Regions from separate parts of the Homo sapiens genome. Here region 2 is linked to region 1. Evidence: fine-mapped expression QTL. A gene starts in region 1. The other region holds a variant in brackets. All regions are shown on one strand. Distances are from middle to middle. Region 1 holds the start of CDKN1A (cyclin dependent kinase inhibitor 1A). Region 2 overlaps CPNE5 (copine 5).

What was found. PIP is the estimated chance that this variant, and not a neighbour inherited with it, causes the effect.
Region 2: its variant is fine-mapped to the expression of CDKN1A in whole blood (TOPMed, PIP 0.96).

Annotation. Positions count from the first base shown.
Region 1 is chr6:36,673,305-36,681,756 of GRCh38, reverse strand. CDKN1A (cyclin dependent kinase inhibitor 1A) reads right to left here and starts at 3,043. Exons shown (of 3, transcript NM_000389.5): 1 at 2,959-3,043. It overlaps PANDAR (promoter of CDKN1A antisense DNA damage activated RNA), which reads left to right and starts at 6,631. Exons shown (of 1, transcript NR_109836.1): 1 at 6,631-8,136. It overlaps DINOL (damage induced long noncoding RNA), which reads left to right and starts at 3,198. Exons shown (of 1, transcript NR_144384.1): 1 at 3,198-4,148. It also overlaps the pseudogene LAP3P2. RefSeq lists silencers at 1,041-1,430, 3,001-3,230 and enhancers at 2,162-2,749, 2,761-2,950, 4,143-5,342, 5,322-5,391, 5,442-5,531.
Region 2 is chr6:36,750,295-36,762,793 of GRCh38, reverse strand. CPNE5 (copine 5) reads left to right here. Exons shown (of 21, transcript NM_020939.2): 13 at 6,496-6,549; 14 at 9,699-9,760. Among named protein-coding and RNA genes, the nearest start is that of RAB44, 59 kb to the right of the region's middle. RefSeq lists enhancers at 2,554-3,522, 3,358-3,547, 6,233-7,432. The variant G/T (reference allele first, on the strand shown) is at 7,059.

The sequences.
Region 1 (8,452 bases):
AGCCGGGCATGATGGCAGCACCTGTAGTCCCAGCTACTCGGGAGGCTGAGGCAGGAGAATGGCGTGAACCCGGGAGGCGGAGCTTGCAGTGAGCCGAGATCACGCCACTGCACTCCAGCCTGGGTGACAGAGCGAGACCGCATCTCAAAAAAAAAAAAAAAAAAAAAAAAATCTGGGCATGGGGGCGGGGGGATCACGCCTGTGGTCCCGGTTACTTGGGAGGCTGAAACAGGAGGACTACTTGAGTCCAGGATGGTGCCATTGCACTCCAGCCTGGGTGACAGAGTGCAACTCTGTCGAAAGAAAAGAAAGAAAGAGAGAAAGAGAAAGAAAGAGAGAAAGAGAAAGGAAGAAAGAAAGAAAGAAAGAAAGAAAGAAAGAAAGAAAGAAAGAAAAGAAAGAAAAAGAAAGAAAGAAAGAAAAAGAAAGAAAGAAAGAAAGAAAGAAAGAAAGAAAGAAAGAAAGAAAGAAAGAAAAAAAGAAAGAAAGAAAAGCACCTAGGGAGTTTTTTCAAAATATAGATTGCTGAGGCCCTGCCTCCCGAGACCAACTTAATCCAGATTGAAGATTCAAGCAAGTGTTTGGCACAATTCCTCAGATGGGCACTCTTGGGTTGCCAGCCAAGCGGAGACACACTGGTATGTTTGAAATGGACATTCTGGGTCTCAATACATCATAGGCACAAGGAGGAGGCGCCCGCCTAGGGCTTCATCAAGGTGCTGGATATTCCCTGGCTCTCGGGAGTTCAAGACAGGACTAGGATCTAGGCAGGCACCCTCTCCTCTTCTACCACCCCTCCTTCTCTTATGGCTCTCATAGGCCTCTCCTCCCCCATCAAAATCTGCTCTCATGCTCATAATAACTTTCAGCCCAAAGAAAACTCAGAAACGCAAACCCTTGTTTTAGAAACAATTAAAAATAGCCTCCTTTATTGGCCTTCCTGCCTTAGACTTCAGCCATATTTTAATTTCCAGTAAGAGCTCAGTGAATACTGTTGAACCTAAGGAGTGCTCCTTTGAAGGGGTGGTAATGGCATAGGGGTTGATCTCGGATGAGCCCAGGAGTAGCCGCGGCGGTTCGCGCCGGCCAGCCCCACTCCGCGGGAAAGCCTGTGTGCTATTCCCGCCAGGGCCGGGAGGGGGCGCCGGCCTCCAGGAAATCACGCGCGGAGTGGGAGGTGCGTGGGCAGAGCCTCGGACCGCTGGAGGGAGTAGTGATGAGTCAGTTTCCTGCAAGGCGCTGCTCGCCCGCCAAAACTGCTTCCACTCCGGCTGCGCGTCACCCTGGGGTGGGGAGGGGGAGAATGGGAGGGGACCGGGGGGCCGCGAACACGTCACGCTGAGCCGGCCAGGCTTCCGAAACTCCCGCCGCTGTTGGGAAACCGCGCGCTCTTGTGCCGTCTCTGACACAGACACACACACACACACACACACACACACACACACACACGCCCGCGCAGACACGCACGCGCGCGCGCGCCGGGAGCCGGCCCCTCCACCTTATCTCCACGCCCAAAGCACGGGATGAGTCAGATCCCTGGAAAATAAAAATAGACGGGAGCAACGAAAACAAAACCGCTCGCAAGTCCTCCCAGAAACGCGACGTGGAGGGAGGCAAGGAGAGGGGAAGCTGCCTGGGCGCCCCAAGTTCCTAACCCAGCTCCAAGATGCTTTTCCTCACGAAGAGGGCGCAAGTGTCCCCCAGGGGTTTGGGACGGAGAGGACGCGCTGTGGTCCGCGCCAGGCGGCGGCGCCCCAGGGGGCGACTCGCCCCCCTGCTCCGCTCAGCCCTGTAGCTTTCGGAGAGGGAATCTGGGCTAGGTCGGGAAGCCCTGAGCCCCCGAGGCAGCTGATAGAGGCCCTGAGCAGCGTCGTGCCCCCCAGACCCCCCACCCCTCAAAGACATGAACCCTCCCCGCCTCCCATCCAGGCGTGGGCTCCGCTCCCGCCCCGGAGTCCAGCGCCCCGACCCGAGGACAGGCTGGGCCGCGATTCTCCCGGCCGCGGTGGGAAAGAGGTAGAGGAGACCCTTGCCCTTCCCCGACTGACAGGCTGGTTAGAGCCCGCCCAGAGCAGGGCCGTGACTCCCCGACCCCTACAGCGCGCCGCGGAGCGGGGACCCGACGCGGTGTCCCGGACCTCCAGTGCCCGGCTTCCTTGGGAACAAACTGTTCCAGCCAAATAGGTCACTGTGCCGATGGGAGGACGGAGACCGCGAAGGGGCAGGGGAGAGGGCTTCTGGAGTCCCGCTGTACCCCATCCCGGGCGGGGTTCTGACCTCATACAGTCCGTTCCCTGGGGTCTCCTTGTCACAGTGAGTCACCTCCTCGCTAGTCCTTAGGGGACGGGTCCTGGCACATTCCCAAGGGCCAGGAAACAGCCCGCGCTGACCTCAGCGCTCAGCCAGGTGGTGGACACAGTGGCGTAAAGGACCTGAACCTGGGACCTGGGCCAGGGCGGCGCAGATTGGATCCCAGAGCCACCCGGGACCGATCCTAGACGAACTTACTCCACTCCGCTTTCCTCGCCCTTCCTGGGCCCCTCCAGGGACACGGACTTCATCCCCACGCCGCGAGCAAACTGCGCCTGGGGCCTGGAGCCAACCGCAGCCAAAGGCGAGCTCCCAGAACGGTCCCGTCCACGCCCTCCCTCGCCCCAGCTGGGTTTCCAGGGGCGGGGAGCGTGACCAGGGATTCCTGTACTTGTAATCCCGCTCTCCGCCCCGGGGTCTCCGGCACATCCCGACTCTCGTCACCCGCGCACTTAGAGACACCGTGTGCGCAAGCCGAGCGCGCACCGACCCACGCCCGTCATTCACCTGCCGCAGAAACACCTGTGAACGCAGCACACACCCGCGAACACGCATCCTCGCGGACACGCAGGGACACACGCGGGCACGCTTGGCTCGGCTCTGGGCCGCCGGCCCGGGGTCCCCTGTTGTCTGCCGCCGCTCTCTCACCTCCTCTGAGTGCCTCGGTGCCTCGGCGAATCCGCGCCCAGCTCCGGCTCCACAAGGAACTGACTTCGGCAGCTGCTCACACCTCAGCTGGCGCAGCTCAGCGCGGCCCTGATATACAACCGCCCCGCCCGGGCCCGCCTCAAGGAGGCGGGACCCGCGCTCGGCCCACCGCGCCGCCCGGGACCGCCCTCCCCGGGGCCCAGGCTCCTGGCTGCCCAGCGCCGAGCCAGCTGAGCCTGGCCGAGTTCCAGCAGGCCAGCCGGTCCCGGAACCTCGCGTGCTGCAGGAGGGCACTTCCCTCCTCCCCCAGTCCCTCGCCTGCGTTGGTGCGCTGGACACATTTCCCCACGAAGTGAGCCACAAATCTGGCTTTTTTTACTTGGAGAATGAGTTGGCACTCTCCAGGAGGACACAGCACTGTTAGAATGAGCCCCCTTTCTGGCTCACCGCTGACCCACTCTGGCAGGCAAGGATTTACCCAATGCAGCTGAAAAGATCAGGAGGATGACATTAATACATAAAAATTCATAAATTATAAAAACGATGCACCTCTCTGCAATTTCCAGAAAAGCCCCACAATATCACCTCTATTCCCACTGATCCCTCACTAGGTCACCTCTCCCAGAAGCACCTGGAGCACCTAGACACCCCAACAAAGCATCTTGAGGCCAGAATGATTTTTCAGTCCCGTTTATTTCACAGATGAGGAAATTGAGGTCCACTGAACTTAAGTATACAAAGTTGTTGATTGTCACATGCTTCCGGGAAGGAGGGAATTGGAGAGACTACCAAAAAAGGGCAACCTGATCTCCAGGGAAACAGAAGAATTGGACATTGAACCAATCTCCCTACACCCTACACTCACCTGAACAGAAGAAATCCCTGTGGTTGCAGCAGCTTTGTTGGCCAGGAAGGGGAGGATTTGACGAGTGAGTTGTCTGTCTCCTGAATACTCCCCACATAGCCCGTATACACTGCTGGGGAAACTGGGGCTCAGAGAAGTCTGGTGACCTAACTCAGATCATGCAGCAAAGAAATGACTATAGTTGGAACACAGGACTTTTGCCTCCTGCCCGGGGCTCTCTGCTTGTCATCCTTTATTTCTGTGGCTCCAAAATGACAAAAATGCCAAATAACCCTCATTTGCAGATGGTTTATGGAGATGACATAAATAAAGGACAATTCTGGAAGTGTCTACTGGTTCTTCTGACAGACACAGAAATGAGTGATGTGTCTATCCGCTCCCATCTACCTCACACCCCTGACCTCCCCTGGACTTCACCTTTGCCTCCTTTCTGTGCCTGAAACATTTGCAGTTTTGCTTTTAAAAAATTGCAGAGGATGGATTGTTCATCTGAACAGAAATCCCACTAAAAAACAGAACCCAGGCTTGGAGCAGCTACAATTACTGACATCTCAGGCTGCTCAGAGTCTGGAAATCTCTGCCCAGACATGCCCAGTCTTCTTCCTCTAACGCAGCTGACCTCGGGGAGGACAGGCTTCTTTCTCCTCTGCTGTGGGGATGGGAGCCCAGGTAGGGGTGGGAGGACACAGTAGCAGACCCCCTTGGCCTGCCTCGCCCTGGAGTCAGGCCAGGATTGTGGCTAAACCCCAGAAAGGCCACGGCACAGCCTCAGGACCCCACTCTAAGCCCCACTGCTGTCTGCACCTTCGCTCCTATACATCCAAACCATCCAAAGGGCTGGTTGTCAAATGTCCAGCAGAGGACAGGCACCTTCTCCCACTGCCTTGAAGCCCCTCTGCTTTCAGGCATTTCAAATAGACTAGACATTGTCTGTCTGTTTACTTTGGGGAGAAAATTTTTTTTAATAAAGGCTTGTAATGAATTATTTAAATTTTTGTGGTACTGAGCTTCACAATGAAATAATTCTTTTTGTTGTTGTTTTTGGGAAAGAATTTTTTTTATAACTTCTAGCTCACCACCACCACGACATTCAATATTTCTTAAGTACCTACTAAGTGTCTAGTACTATTCAGTGCTTTAAAAAAAAAAGTTTGCAACCATGCACTTGAATGTGTACCCAGACACACTCTAAGGGAGGACTTCTGCCCTGAAAAAGGCAAGGGAGCAGGCTGTTAAAAGTCACACACAGAATCTGACTCCCAGCACACACTCACACAAGCACACATGCATCAGATCCCAGCCCTGTCGCAAGGATCTGCTGGCAGATCACATACCCTGTTCAGAGTAACAGGCTAAGGTTTACCTGGGGTCTTTAGAGGTCTCCTGTCTCCTACCATCCCCTTCCTCACCTGAAAACAGGCAGCCCAAGGACAAAATAGCCACCAGCCTCTTCTATGCCAGAGCTCAACATGTTGGGACATGTTCCTGACGGCCAGAAAGCCAATCAGAGCCACAGCCTGCTGCCCAAGCATGTTCCTGGGAAGCAGGCAGCATAGGGATGGAGGGAGGCTCAGCCTGGGGGACAAGAGTGCCCAGTCCAGCCCCCTCCCCAGAGTGCGGTGGAGCAGCATGGGGTAGGGGAATGGTGAAAGGTGGAAAGCCCAAGCCTGAAGAAGGAGGATGTGAGGAAGGCTCAGTGGTGGCTGCAGAAGCTGCCTAGGAAGGGAGAGGAAGTGCTGGGAACAATGTCACCATTTCTCAGAAAGAGACTGGGGAGTCCCAAATAGGGGCAGTCAGCTTTCAGAGGAATTCACCTTCACACAGGCTCCCAAGAAGTGAGACCCCAGAGAAGAGGCGGAACAAAGATAGAACATTATTGAGCAGAGGCAGCCCTGGCTTTTTGTTTTCATTTTGTTTTTTTGTTTTGTTTTGTTTTTTGAGACAAAGTCAGCAGTGGCACAATCTCAGCTCACTGCAGTCTCCGCCTCCCAGGTTCAAGCAATTCTGCCTCAGCCTCCCGAGTAGCTGGGATTACAGGCATGCACCACCATGCCCAGCTAATATTTGTATTTTTTTTTTTGCACAAAAAGTTGGATTTATTGTTTCTGACAAGTGGTTAGTAATTTTCAGTTTGCTCATGTTCCTAGCATCACAAATCTGAAGTACAATTTTGCTTCTCAATTAAAAATATATACTGGCCGGGCGTGGTGGCTTACGCCTGTAATCCCAGCACTTTGGGAGGCCGAGGCGGGCAGATCACAGGGTCAGGAGTTTTGAGACCAGCCTGGCCAATATGGTGAAACCCCGTCTCCATTAAAAATACAAAAATCAGCCGGGCATGGTGGTGGGCACCTGTAGTCCCAGGTATTCAGGTGGCTGAGGTGGGAGAATCGCTTGAACCTAGGAGGCGGAGGTTGCAGTGAGCTGAGATCATGCCACCTGCACTCCAGCCTGGGTGACAGAGTGAGACTCCGTCTCAAAAAAAAAATATATAAATCTTTGTGTAAAATGAAAAAAAAATCAAGGCATAAAAATTTCATTGTGTTCTACATTTTTAAATATAAATTGCCTCCTTTAAAATATTTTCATCCATTCATTCAAAAACCTTTTAACTTCAACTGTCCAATTTAAGATAGAGTGAAGACATTTTTGAGTATCTGAACTAAGCATTGTCTTGACTGAAACGAAGTAAGAACTCTATGAGAGTCCTTGTGGGCCTCCCGGTCATGCCTTTCCATAGATAGGGAACCTCATCTTTGTTGGTCATCACACCTGCTATGTCTAAATGTGCCCACTTAGGATGAGTCACGAATTCTTTCAGGAATGCCGCAGATGTACATGCTCCCGCAGATCTATATTTTCCAATGTTGTTAACATCAGCCAGCTGGCAATCTACAACCTGTCTTGTACAATGTTTGAAGAGAGGCATCCTCCAGACACGGTCCCCTGTTTCAATGCTGGCCTCGAAGAGCTTGTTCCAGAGCCAGGATGAATTGGTAAAGACCCCAGTGGCACCTGACCCCAAAGCTACATCTATGACACCTGTTAAGGTGGTGGCATTGAGGATGACCTTCGGGTTAAATGTGTGCACGTAACAGAGCGCATCAGCCAGTATGAGCCTCCCCTCAGCATCAGTGTTACCAACCTGGATGGTCTTCCTGTTCCTGGCTCTAACAACATCCCCCAGCTTGTTGGCCTTGCCGCTGGGCATGTTTTCACAGAGGGGCCAGACCTATAATATTAATGGGCAAACTGAGATTTGCAGCAGACACAATGGCTGAGCATATAGTTGTAGCTCCTCCCATGTCGGCCCTCATGAGGTCCATATTTGCAGAAGCCTTGATGGAGATACCACCACTGTCAAAGGTAATTCCTTTCCCAACAAACAAGGGGTGGTTTGTCTGCATTGGGGCTGCCTATGTAGTGAATTTCCAAGAAGACTGAGGGCTCGTCAGATCCTTTGGCCACACTGAGGAATGATCCCATTGCCTGTTCCTCAATCCAAGACCTGGGTCTGATATGAAACTCGGTTTACTACTAGCGCTTTTGAGATTCTTCTCAATAATTTCGGCAAATCTGGTTGGCATCATCTCGCTGGCTGGCGTCTCCATCATGCCAAGTTCTGCCCAGAAGCAAACAGGACTCCTTTCTGCCAGGCCTCCTGATCCCCAGTTCCATAGAGCTTCACCGACATAGCCATCTTCTTTTTTTGCTTTAGGTCATCGTATTCATAGAGACCAAGCACCGCGCCCTCCTCAGCAGCCTGAGCATCTCTACAGGGATCCACCTCCACGGAAGAGAGCTCCAGGTCTTGAATCTGCCTGCATCCTGCTGCAACAGCAGCTCTGATGTTTTCTTTGCCTTCCTGCCAGTTTTCCTGTTCGTCGATTCTGGCTGCCTTTTTGCCGAGGCCAACTAGCACCACGCTGGGGAAGTCCTGATGCAGACCATAAAAGTTTCGAGTCTTGCCTGCCTTCAGAGGTGGTCCAGATATGTTCAAAGTCTCTCTCAGCTTTCCAGCTATCAATTTATCAAGATTCTCTCCTGCACTTGTGAACTGTGGCACATCATCTTCTTTTTCTTTGGAATAGATTCCTAAAACAAGGCCCTTCGTCATGTCTGCAGCGGAGAGACCCCGGCTCCCGAAACATCTCACGGCCAGACGTCAGACGATGACTCGCCCCACCCAATGTTTGTATTTTAGTAGAGAGAGGGTTTCTCTATGTTGGTCAGGCTGGTCTCAAACCTCGACCTCAGTTGATCTGTCTGCCTCGGTCTCCCAAAGTGCTGAGATTACAGGCGTGAGCCACTGCGCCCAGCCTATTTTTATTTTTTATATATTTTTTGAGATGGAATCTTGCTCTGTTGCCCAAGCTGGAGTGCAGTGGCGTGATCTCAGCTCACTGCAACCTCCACTTTCTAGGTTCAAGCGATTTTCCTGCCTCAGCCTCCCGAGTAGCTGGGATTACAGGCATGTACAACCATGACTGGCTAATTTTTGAATTTTTAGCAGAGACGGGGGTTTCGTCATGTTTCATCATGTTAGCCAAGCTGGTCTTGAACTCCTGACCTTAAATTATCTGGCTGCCTCAGCCTCCCAAAGTGCTGAGATTACAGGTGTGAGCCACC
Region 2 (12,499 bases), 79 kb before region 1:
CCATTCTACCGTTAAGGAGACCAAGTCTTGGAGAAGTGCGAGAACTTGCCCAAAGTTCCACCATTCAGTAAGTGGCAAAATCAAGACACAAACAACCCAGACTTGGCTGATTCCAAATCACCGAGTTATAGTGTCCCCATAAAGAGCAGTTCTCACAAGCAAGAGAGATAGGAGCACGATGGGAGCCAGTATACGAAGGTTCTGGGCTTGAGACCTGAGGTCCTGAGTTCGAGGTGGCCTTGTGCTTTCAATCAGAACAGTTTCAGGGCCTGCTGAGTATCTTACCTGTTTCAGAATGAAAACTTCAAGAGAATGAGGTCAGGATACCTTCCTTGTTCTAGCCCCAGAGCTGGAGAGCCTCGGACAAGGCACCTGGTCTCTCTGGAGGTGTAACAGTAGCATTTGCCCTCAAGGGACAATGTCTGCATGTGTGTGTGTGTGTGTGAGCATGTATTTGCGTGTGTGCGCATGCGTGTGTGTGTGTGTGTGCATGTATGTGTGTGTGCGCGTGCGTGTGTGTGTATGCGTGTGCATGTGTGTGTTCTCCCTCTTTTTTTTTTTTTTTTGAGACAGGGCCTCACTCTGTTGCCCTGGTTCACTGCAGCCCCAATCTCCCAGGCTCAAGCGATCCTCCCACCTCAGCCTCCCGAGTAGCTGGGACCACAAGCACGCACCACCATGCCCAACTAATTTTTTAAATTTCTTGTAGAGACAGGATCTCGCTATGTTTCCCAGGCTGGTCTTGAGCTCCTGGGCTCAAGCGATCCTCCTGCCTTGGCCTCCCAAAGTGCTGGGATTATAGGCCTGAGCCACCGCGTTCTACTGTGTGCTCTCCCTTTTGCAATTCCCTCCCCACCTTCCAAATCTAGCTCAGGTCCTGCTCCTCTGTGAGGTCTTCCCAGCCACTCTTGTCCCCGTGCTTTCTTGTCTGAACTTCCACAGACATCATGGTTCATGCCAAACCCACTTAATGGCAGATACTTATAACCCAAATAACTGCTTGTGTTCGTATCCTGACTCTACCACTTACTAGCTACGTGACCTTGGCTAAGTCTCTGAACTACTCTGTGCCATGCAAACTGAGAATTAAATAAGTTAATGGAACAATGCCTGACCCAGAGGTCAGCACTGTCTTCTGTCACCATCTGCTGAGCACTGTGTGCCCAGAGGTTCACATTTTACAACCATCCTACCATCCTGGCACTGTCCTCATGCTAGCAGCCACTCAGCCAGCAAAGTTGAAGAGCTGGCCTTGAGTTCCATCACTGAATCCAAATCCCATGCTACCCCCACTCCTTTGCCCTGCATGTCGGTTCTGAGTGGGCAGGTCTTGTGTTCCAACTAGACTTTCCAAGGGCTGGTGAGGTGACAGCCCTGTCTGTTGCCTCCCCTCACTGGCCAGGGCACTGCCGGGCACACAGTAGGTGTGTTATACATTCGCATGCTGAATGAGATTGAACATGGCTATTGTGAAGATGGAGTGTGGATGAATTTATTTGAAAGGGCTCTAATACAGTACATTGCTTTGTTTTCTGCATCTGCAAAGAGAGAAGCTGTCTTTGTCCCCGCTCCCCCGCCCCACCCCAGTCAGAGAGAAGCAGATGCCACCATTCTCTGGCCTCCTTTGAGGAGATTTAGGGAGGTGAAGGGAAGGGGTCAGATCTCTCCGAGCTTGGCTTCTAAAGGTGCTTGACAGGCCCAGAAGGAGCTGTTTCTCTCGGGCTAAGAGCAGAAAGCATTCAATTGACTTGTTTTCTCAGTTGTTGATCCCTGCTTCTTTGTAATCAACAAGAGAAAGTGCCACACTGGGAGGCAGAAGCACTGTCTGCACACATCGGAAGGCCATCAGCTGAAAAAGGAGCACAGCTCTGGCAGTCCCAGGGGGAGGCTGGTTTGGGGCAGGAAGGCCTTGCTAGAATCAGAACTGCCTGAAAAGGGAACAGGCTCCAGCCAGTAAAGACCTGTGCCTCGGGCCCTGGCATTGCCCTAGTGTCAGGCTCCTATGTCCAGCTGTCTGCTGGCCCTTCCTGTAGCTCAGCCTTCCAAAACTGAACACATTAGCTAAACCTCCCACAGCACTCCCGTCCTCCTGGCGAGCCGGCTTCATCTCAAATATTCCCATCATGGGGGCTCAGGGCACCTTAGGGGTCATACTTAACTTCCCCATCCCTCATTCCATATCCAGTCCACGAGCAAACACTGCTCGCCTACCACCCATGTTTTCTGACATCGTTCCCCTCATCTCAGGCCACCACCACCAACTTCATCATCTCCCCCCTTATGGGGCTTTGCCACAGCCTCCTTTCTTCCTTCTGTCCTCTACACAGTAACCAGCGTACTCCACCAAAATAGTGATCTGATCACATCGCTCCCCTGCTTAAAATCTGTGTAGGGCATTCCACCCACCTCCTTAGCCTGGTTCGCACATGGGAGGTGGGAAGAGATACTGAAAGATGCTCCCACCGCAGCTGAGATCCACTGACCTACAGGGTGAAGTTCCAAGCTCTTTCATTTGGGATGCTGTTTCCCCAGCCAGCCACCCGCAATCTGTGTATGCGTGCTTTTTTTTTTTTTTTAAGATGGAGTCTCATTCTCACCCAGGCTGGAGTGCAGTGGCACAATCTCGGCTTACTGCAACCTCCACCTCTACTTCCAGGCTCTAGCTATCCTCCCACCTCAGTCTCCCAAGTAGCTGGGACCACAGGCACACACCACCACCCTGGCGATTTTTTTTTTTTTTTGCATTTTTGGTAGAGATGGGTTTTTGCCATGTTGCCCAGTCTGGCCTCCAACTCCTGAGCTCAGGTGATGCACCCGCCTCGGCCTTGCAAAGTGCTGGGATTTCAGGTGTGAGCCACCACGCCTGGCTGTGCATGTAAATAAAAACACACATCACATGCCTTTGGAGGCCCCTAGGAGCTGGCCCCTGCCCCTTCCCTCTGCCCATTCCCACATTCATCCCCGTCCTGCCACCTGAGGCTCTCTGAACCTCCGTGCTGTCTCAGCCTCCAGGGCTCGATTCATATGGGTGCCTCCACCTGAGACTCCCTCTTGTCTTCTCCTGGGTAGGAGCTATTGGTCCACGGAGCCTCCCTGTGGGTGTTCCTCCTCCAGGAAGTTGTGTCCACCTGCACACCCGCCCCACCCCAGAGCCTGGAGTGGACACTTGTCAGTGCTCCTGGGGTTCCTTCTGGCTATTTTCTGTTTTGTGACACTATTCAACCCCTCAAAGACCTTGAAGTCCTCAGGGTGGGGGTTGTGTTGCACTTACTGCTGCATCCCCAGAGCCAGCACAGCTCCTGGCCCCTAGGAGCCCCTCAGTGCCCCCACCCACCCCACCTAATGTGCGCAGGAGGGCAGATTCCAGACCTGTCCTGTCCCCGCCTGACCACCAAGAAGAAGGGAGGTGACTTAGTGGAGGGGCAGCTCCTCGGCTGGCCCCTAGGTGGCGCTGGCCCCCTGCATGGGATTCACCGTGGCGGGGCTGGAGAGGCTGAGGCTGGGAGCATGAAACCTCAGGGTAAACAGGGATCTGAGAACAGAACATTGCTTTAACATTAAAGCAGTTATATCAGAGAGTGGAAATGTGGAATACAGGCTAATTTAAAGATAACATAGAAAGCTTAGAAGAAACATGCTTGTGGCCAAATCTTTGGTTACTCTCAGGACTCCGGGTTCATTCTCCCCAGCTGGGAGGGCTATGTTGGAGCAAAAGTTTGAGATGCTGTCCATTCCGATAGTTCAACACCCTCAAGGGAGAGATTGGGAAACTGAGGCACAGTGCAGCACTGGGGCTGCCATTTTGCCCTCATCTTAACAGCTTGCCTACTTAAGCTGTTTTCCCATGAATGTGTCCGTGAGCACCTCACCATCTGGGTAACCCCGTGGAGGGGGCGTCCTCCAGTGCTAAAGAGGGTGCTCTGGTCTTCTCTCCCGGGCTCTCTCACCATCTCGCCCAGGCCCTCAGTTTCTACCTGCACAGCTTGCCAGACCTCCCACGTGAACTTCCCACCTGTGCCCCAAATCCAGCGCCTTCCTTCTGTGTCTACCTGGTCACCCCAACCCCTCCCTCTCTCGAACCTCTATAGCCACGCCCAGGGCCCAAGAGGCGTGGTCACTTCTTGACAGCGCTGTTCTCACCATAGCTCAGCACCTGTCCCAATACCCCCAAGTCCTCATGACCTCTCGCATGGACTTATGGTGGCAGTAATAATAGTAGTAGTAATTTTGAAAAATAGCAACTAAGGCTGGGTGCAGTGGCTCACGCCTGTAATCCCAACACTCTGGGAGACTGAGGCAGGAGGATTGCTTGAGCCCAAGAGTTTGAGACCAGCCAGAGTAACATAGCGAGATCCTATCTCTACCAAAAAAAAAAAAATAGCCAGACATGGTGGCAGCTACCTGGAAGGATTGCTTGAGCCCGGGAGGTTGAGGCCACAGTGAGCTATGACCCCACCACTGCACTCCAGCCTGGGCCATAGAGCAAGACCCCGTCTTAGAAAAAAGCAACAGACACGTATAGATAATACTTACTACATTCCAAACTGTTCTAGGCACTTTGCTTGCATTGGCCCATTTAATCCTCATACCTTTCCGGGAGGCAGGTACTTCTTATTCCCATTTTAGAGATGAGGAGACTGAGGCACATTGAGGTTAAGTAACCTGCCTAAGGTCACACAGCTATTATTAGGTGGCAGAACTAGGCAAATATTTCCTGGATGAGCCTCCTCCTCCCCTCACACTCACCTCCACCAGGCCCCAGTGTCCTAGAGCCTGCTCTGATTTTGTCTCCTACCAGCTTGGGGGTCATCAGAGTTCCCTGCAGGCCGCTGGGTGACATTCAGACATTTTTCACTGGGCATTCTAGGCTCTCCTCCAACCAGCCCAGCTTACTCTTCCACCCTGTGGTTCTGCCATCAAACTGGGCCTGGGTTCTATTCATTTCTCCCACAGAACCTCCTCTGACATCCATCTCTCCGTGCCCAGAGCCTTCCTGTGCCTCTAAGTCTGCCTTCAAGACTTCCTGCTCCAGAGAGGCTTTGCTGACACTCTCACCTAGAGTGGTCTTTCCTTCCTCTAACTCCCCTGACACTTCTGTGATCCCCCTTGTTCCATGGCCCTTGTCACTTTTTGCCCTGAGGACATATCTTCTCTCTCCAACATAGGTGATAGATGATTCCAGGGGAGAAGCAATATATGTCTCCACCCACCCCATAAATGTATGTCAAAGAGATCTGTTTGTATCTGTTATCAAGGTGGCACCAATGTATGCACCACTGGCCCGGGGGCAGGAAACCTGGTTTCTAATCCTGTCACTACCCAGATGGCTGTGTGACTTTAGGCAAATCACCTGGTGTCGCTGTGCTTTAGTTTCCTTCTTGCTGGAAGTAGATAGCAATACTCACCCAGACAGAAGAGACCACGGTAAAGATCAGCTGACGGCCTCTGTGGGAACAAAGACAGGGAAAGGGGAAATGAGTTCACCAGAAACCAACAGGCAGCACAGGAGGTATGAAAATTGCCTGGCTTTGTTTGATGGGACATTAGGGAAAAGTTGTGCCTAGACTTCCCTTATTAAAAACAAAACAAAGAAAAACTGGCGAGGGTCAAATGAGAATACAAATACAGTAAGTGCGGAAGTCTCGTGGGGGGCCTCAGGGCTGGGTGGCTCTCGTCACTTTGCCCAGTCTTGGCCTTGGCACTACTGGGATTTGGGACTGCATCACTCCCTGCCGTGGGAGGCTGTCTTGTGTACTGTAGGATGTTTAGCAGCATGCCTGGCCTCTACTCACCCCCTCAGTTGTGGAAACCAAAACCGTCTCCAGATGTTACCAAACGTTCCTGGGGGTAAAATCGCCCCTGGTTGAGACCGCTGAGTTAGCCACCAACAAGCCTTCTCTGAGCACCTACTCTGAGCCTAGCCCCATGATTTATCTGACACAGGTCTGGTTTGGAAGTTAAAGCTTACACTCAAAGAATAGCTAAAGAGGTTCTTGCTGCCAAGTAAGAGGGATGGTGATGGAGAGGGGAGCCTCAGAGGCCCTGGGCAGCCCTTGGGCTGGGTCCCAAAGGAGGAACAGGGGAGATTGGAATTGGCTGAGAGAGGAAGGGGGTGCATTTTTGGTGAGGGGAGCAGCCTCAACCAACACAAGGGACAGGTACAGATAGGGCCGCTTTGCAACATCAAGACTTCTTTGGCTATACTGGGTGGAGGGTGCGTGTGTTCCGGGGAACAGTGGGAGAGAAGGTTAAATAAATATTCCCGGTTGATCGTGGGACCCTGGGTCTGATGGGAGAACCCAGTTGTGTAACCCAGACTCAATACCAGTCTCCCACAAATCCTCCTTAAACCCTTCTCCCCTGGCCCCGTGGTCTTCACACCCCACACTCTAATGGGGCTGGGCTTGGACCACACCCATGGGTGGTTGGAAGCCCTCAAGACTCACCCTGACTGCCTGGAAGCATGCCTTACCTGGTAACTGGTTTTTCCTGCAGGTGGTAAACCCGAAAAAGAAAATGAAGAAAAAGAAATACGTGAATTCTGGCACAGTGAGTAGCCACCCCGGTCTCTGCAGCCGGGTGTAGACATTCTGAGCCCCAAGCTAGGTCTGGTATCAGGGAGGCCCGTGCGTCTGTGTGTGTGCAGGGGCTGAGCGTGGGAATCAGACATCCAAGAGAGATGGGGTGGGGAGGGGTGGGGCAGATGGAGCAACAGCCAGGGGAGAGAGTTGACTTGCAGACCACACAACAGGCGCTGGCTGTATCTAGCATGAGGAATCGCAGAGACATCCACGGGACTTCCTGCAGGAAGGAAGAGGAAGAGAAGTCGTATTTATTGGGCCCCTACCCTGGGAAATTCCCCACGTTGGTGCTTTTCACAGGTTGTTGCCCTGAGAGGCAGATATTATCATCCCCTAGTCATGAAAGAGGAAACCAAGGCTGCAAGCAGGAAAGTGACTCAGCCAAGGTCACACAGCTAGAAAGTGGTAGAGATGGGACTCAACATGACATCTCACTCCAGAGCTGGCAGCTGCTACGGGCGCTGCCCCTGCTTAACC[G/T]TGACCTTCCTGGGATGACACGCCGGCCTAGTGGCTTCTCGGGGCTGGTCTTGAGGACATTCATACGCTTCTTCAGCAAATACTTACTGAGTGCTACTGTGTGCCAGGCACTATTCTAGGCACATCAGATACAGCTGGAAACAAGACAGACCCAAATCCCTGGTGCTTATATTCTAGTGGGAGGAGACAGAGAAAAAAAAAAAACACACACACACACACACACATGCCTGTGTGTGTCAGTTGATTATGAGAGCTATGGAAAAAGTATAAAGGGTAAAGGGACAGGCAATGGAGGAAGTATTGAGGATACTGGGGAAAGGGAATTCCAGCATTCCTGCTGTAGAGAACAGCACATGCAAAGGCCCTGAGGTGGAGCTCACAGTGCATTTCTAGAACAAGCCACTTTCTCTGCAGTGCAAACACACCCAGATTCATCCTCTCTGTGTTCCTTCCTCACTCTAGAGGCCCATGGCTAGTGCAGCCAAGCCTGGTCATTTGAGTCAGGCAGACTGTATCTCCAGACCTAGAAGAGGTTTTCAGGAGCTCTGGGGTTCCTCTGAGAAGCCTCATTTTCTCCGTCTGTAAAGTAGGACTAATAAATCATCCCCACCTTGCCACTGCACAGGGCAGCTGTGACAGACACATGGGAGATGCAGGCTTGTGAACTGTAAAATTACTCTGCTCATTCAAAGGGGACTGAACACCACTTCTTTGATTGTAACTGCTTCACAGACTGGGGCTTGGAGTCATATTTCCTTTGTCCAAGGCTGCGGTGTTTCTTAGTGGAGAGGCTGTCAGCATTTGGGCAGGAAAATTCTTCATCTCACAGGATGTTTAGCACCCCTGGCTGCTGCCCATAGCTACCAGTAGAGCCCCAGTCATTATGAGAACCCCCAAAATTCTCCCACGCCTTCCTAAATTCCCCTAGGGAAGACAGCACCTTCCCCAGCTGGGAATAAAAAGGTTCAAAAACCACTGATCTCATCCAGCCTTCTTACTTTAGAGACGAAGAAACTGTGGCCTAGAGAGGGCATGCGATTTGTCCCAGGTCACACAGTGAGCTGGAGACAGAGCGGGCCTAGGCCCAGGTCTCTTGACTTTCCTTTTACTCCAGCATTTCCCCATCTTCATCGCGAAAAATCACCCGGGATGCAGAAAGCTTGCTGAAATACAGACGCCCAGGCCAGTTCCCTGGGATTCCACTTTAGGAGGCCCAGGAATCTGTGTTTAGTGCTTTTCATCCCTTACTTATGGTGTGCAGAATCCCCTGGGGATCTTGTGAAAATGCCAAGAATCTGCATTTCTGCATTTCTACCTGGCATCGAGGTGATGCTGACGCTCTGGTCTAGGGACACTACCCTTTGAATAGGGGAAAGTCTGCTTTCACCCTGCGAGCCCCTGGGTGAACCCATATGGTCAGGGCAGTTAGGGCATTGCTTCATCCTGGGGGTTGGAATGGGGAGTGGTCAACTGTGTCTGCAGATTAGACTTACGTGAAGAGCTAAAAAAAAAAAAAAAAAAGAAGATCTCTGAAACATTCATGTAGCCCCGGAAACTCGGCTATAATGGGTCTGGGCTGCAGGATGATCTAAGAGCCCCCAGGGCATCTCATGGTCATCAGTCAGGGTTGAAGCCACTGCCGTGGTTCCTAGTAAGTCTGAGCTGCCACACTTGGAAGGAGGCCTGTGGTTCATCCAGGTGCCTAATACCTTAACCACAATAGCTGGGGGTCTTACTGCCAAGTAAGGGTGGTGCTCTCACCTGGCCCTCCCAATGAGCCTGTAAAAACAGCTGAATCTTCATGAATAGGGGGCTCCCAAACTACCAGAGAGGAGTTCGTTCTCTTACACAGGTGAAAGGTCCTCTGCCCTAATCTTGTCTCATATAATTGGCCTAGGATGCCAGGCTTTCATTTGTCTCCTTGATTCTAAATTGTTATGATAATGAGCTGCCAGGTAGCTGCCTGTCTTGGCAAAGCCAAAGCTAACTTTGCCAGGGCATAGGTTAAAAGGCCTCTGCTTGGGGGAGGGGGCCTGGGGTAGTCAGTTACCTCTGGGGAAAAGGATGGGCTACTTATGAGGCAGGATCTTGGGTCTGAGAGGGATGAGATGGGACCAGTAAGATTTAAGATAAGCACAGTCCAAAGAGGCACATTTCAGGACTAATAGCTCTAGGCACATGGAAGCCTGAAGCTGGTCGGCATTGGCAGGTTGTTAGGCCTGTGCCAGGAGGGCCCCCTTGTCCTCCACACCCCACCCTAGGTCCCTGGGGCTGAAGAGCCAGTGCCCACTTAGAGGAAACTAACACCCTTGGCTTGGACCCCGGTTCCACTGACACAGATGGGACCCTTCCGTCAAGGTCAAGAGTGCAGGCTCTGAAGTCAGACACACCCTGGTTTCAGATCCCTTCTCTGCCCTGGCAGTGTCCTTGGGCACATTGCACCACCTCTTTGGGTTTCAGTTTCCTTGGCTATAAAGTGGGGATAATAATAGTACTTCATGGGGTGGTGTGGGCAGTGCATGCAGTCATGCATGCAAAACTGGCACATGCCGAGTGTTCTGTCAATGTCAGCTCTCGAATCATAACCCATCTCCCCTGACCCCAGGCTCCCCACTGACCAAGCTCCCTTTTGTTTTGAAGGTCACCCTGCTTTCCTTTGCTGTGGAGTCAGAGTGCACCTTCCTTGACTACATCAAAGGAGGGTGAGAAGAGATACAGCCAATTTCATGGGCCTTGGGGAGAGGGAAAGGGCCCCACACACCGACAGGACCGGCTCTGGCCCCACCCTGGCCTCTTCAAAGCCCTGGTTGAAGGCTGTGGTGCTGGGCTCTGAGCAAACCCTGGTGTTTGGGCTGAGACAACTCATCCAGAGCCCTGCACATCCCCAGATCCCAAGCAGCTTGGAGGGAACTCCTGAGCCAAGGAGGCTGGCCTGGGTCATGTCAGGTCTCCATGCAGAGACAGGACCTGGAGCTGGTAGGGACTCCGTGACAGAAAGCCAAGGGCTTGGGGATGTAGAAAGAACCCTGCAATAGGAGTCAGGAGGCCCAGGCTCTAGGCCTCTCTTTGCCATTAATTTGCTGGGTTCCTTTGGGTGAGTCATTTTTCCTCTCAGGGTATCAGTTTCCTCCTCTGTACACAAAGAGAACGGAATAGGTAAGTGTTAAGGTTCCTTACAGCTCTGAGCTTCTGACACCTCTGATCTGTCTGGTTGGGGGAGGGGGACAGTGATTAACCTGCTCACTGTTATTAGGGCCCTGTAAGGGCAGCGGGATTGGGGATAAGCCAGGGATTGGTCCTGGGGCCAGCAGGTGGTCAAACATGAGTTTAAGGAGCAGAAAGAACCACCAGGCACAGTGTCTAGGCCCAGACAGATGGGGGAGCCAGGAGGCCCCAGCCAGCAGCTCACGGAAAGAGCCTGGCTCTAAGGGTAGAGCCTGCCCAGCATGCTGCCTGCCAGGACAGGTGCCAGGTCAGGGCGTGGGCAGCCAAGAGCCCGCAGGTGAGTGACTGCACCTGTCTGGAAAGGAGACAGGCAGGAGCAACTGCCAAAGGCTCATCCCAGCCAAGTGGACCCTTGGCTGCCTGGTTCTCCAGGGCAGAGGGAGAAGTCAGGTCCTGGGAAGCCACACTCACTTTCCCATGACAACACTCCCTGCTGCCTTGAGCTTGCAGTCTCAAGGCTGCAAGCTCTCCTCCTACCCACTGAGCACACACCCTGCCTCCAGTCACTCAGGAGCTCCTCTGCTCTTACCTGCCCCTCCTCTGGGCTGACTCCAGACCCCGCCTTTGCACTCTTCCCCCATCAAAATTGCTTCCCTCTCAATCCCATTAATCAGCCACCCCTTACAGTCCATAGCACCTGGTAACTCTCAAACACCCCTCATCCTGTTTATTTTTATTTATGTTTATTTTATTTTATTTTATTTTATTTATTTTTTGAGACAGAGTCTCGCTCTGTCACTCAGGCTGGAGTGCAGTGGCACAATCTCGGCTTACTGCAACCTCCGCCTCCTGGGTTCAAGCAATTCTCCTGCCTCAGCCTATCAAGTAGAGTAGCTGGGGCTACAGGCATGCGCCACCACCCCCAGCTAATTTTTGTATTTTTAGTAGAGACGGGCTTTCACCATTTTGGCCAGGCTGGTCTCGAACTCCTGACCTCAGGTGATTCGCCTGCCTCGGCCTCCCAAAGTGCTGGGATTACAGGCATGAGCCACCACACCCAGTCCATCCTATTTATTTTTTTCATTTGCATAGTACCCCCAACTTACAGAACACAGTGGGCAGGATCAGAACAGTTATCCCCATTTTACAGAGCTTGCCTGAAGCCACACGCCTAGATGGTGGCAGGGTTCCTTCTCCCATAACATGCTGCCTTTCATTCTATAGTAATGAATCAGTCTAGCCTGCCTGACTTGCAGTTAGCGGGTGGGGTGGGATGAAGATGGAGACTGATGAGTTAAAGGGCTGGATGCTGTGAGGTTTCATCGAAAAGGAGCCCTCAGAGGCTGAGCTAAGCTGGTGCCACCCATACTGGGCAGGTTATAGCCCCAGAGCCAGCCCTCTCTTTAAACTCTCTGGAGAGCCTGAGTGAGGGAGCTGGCTCCAGGGACTGAGAGCCTGGCATGCATGCCCAGGCAGGAAGCTGATGTCTAGGGATCCTCTCCTCCCTGGCCTCCCTCACCTGCCCACCTGGACCCAGGAGGAAGGGTATGGGTACTTTGGCCCCACTGTCAGAGGAGGAGCTGGTTGCTCAGCAGCCTGTGTTCTACCCTTAGGCAGGAGACACTAGGCTGCTGCGAGTAATTTTCCCACAAGAGGATCTGCTTTCCAATTGCTTCCTTTCCCAAGGCTTTTCAGAACCCAGGGCAGGGGAGGACTAGTTAGAGCAAGGCCTGCCTTTCCCCTCACCCTGTATTTGGAAGAGCCAGTCCAACAGTGTCCCTCCAGTATAGTCCCACAGGCCAGAATCATCTTCCCAAGAGTGGCCCTGGGAGCGGGACTTTCACCCTCCAAATGTCTCCCTACCTCTAACAAAGACATGCGTTCTACATTCCACACTGAAGCGGGGGTGACAACAAACAGCAGATGAGTATGGTAGGTCAACTGCTGTAACACATAATTCCCTAACCTCAAGCCTTCATACCAATAAAGGTCTGTTTTTCATCTGTGGGATGGCAGGGTTGGGTGGGGAGATGATCCACGCAGTCATTCAGGGACCCAGGTTCTTGCTAGCTTTGCGGCTCCTTCTATCCTACTGCCTGGAATCCTCTGGATGCTCTGCCCCCAGCCAGCAGAAGAGGAGAAAGAGGTGGGGATGACTGTCTGTGGCCAGCAGACCCTGGCTGGGGTCTCCTGCTAACCATGTCCTTGACATTTCCCTGGGGGTGAGTGAGGGTTCCATGAGCAGCAGCTCAGCTGTGATCAGGTGGTTTCTGATA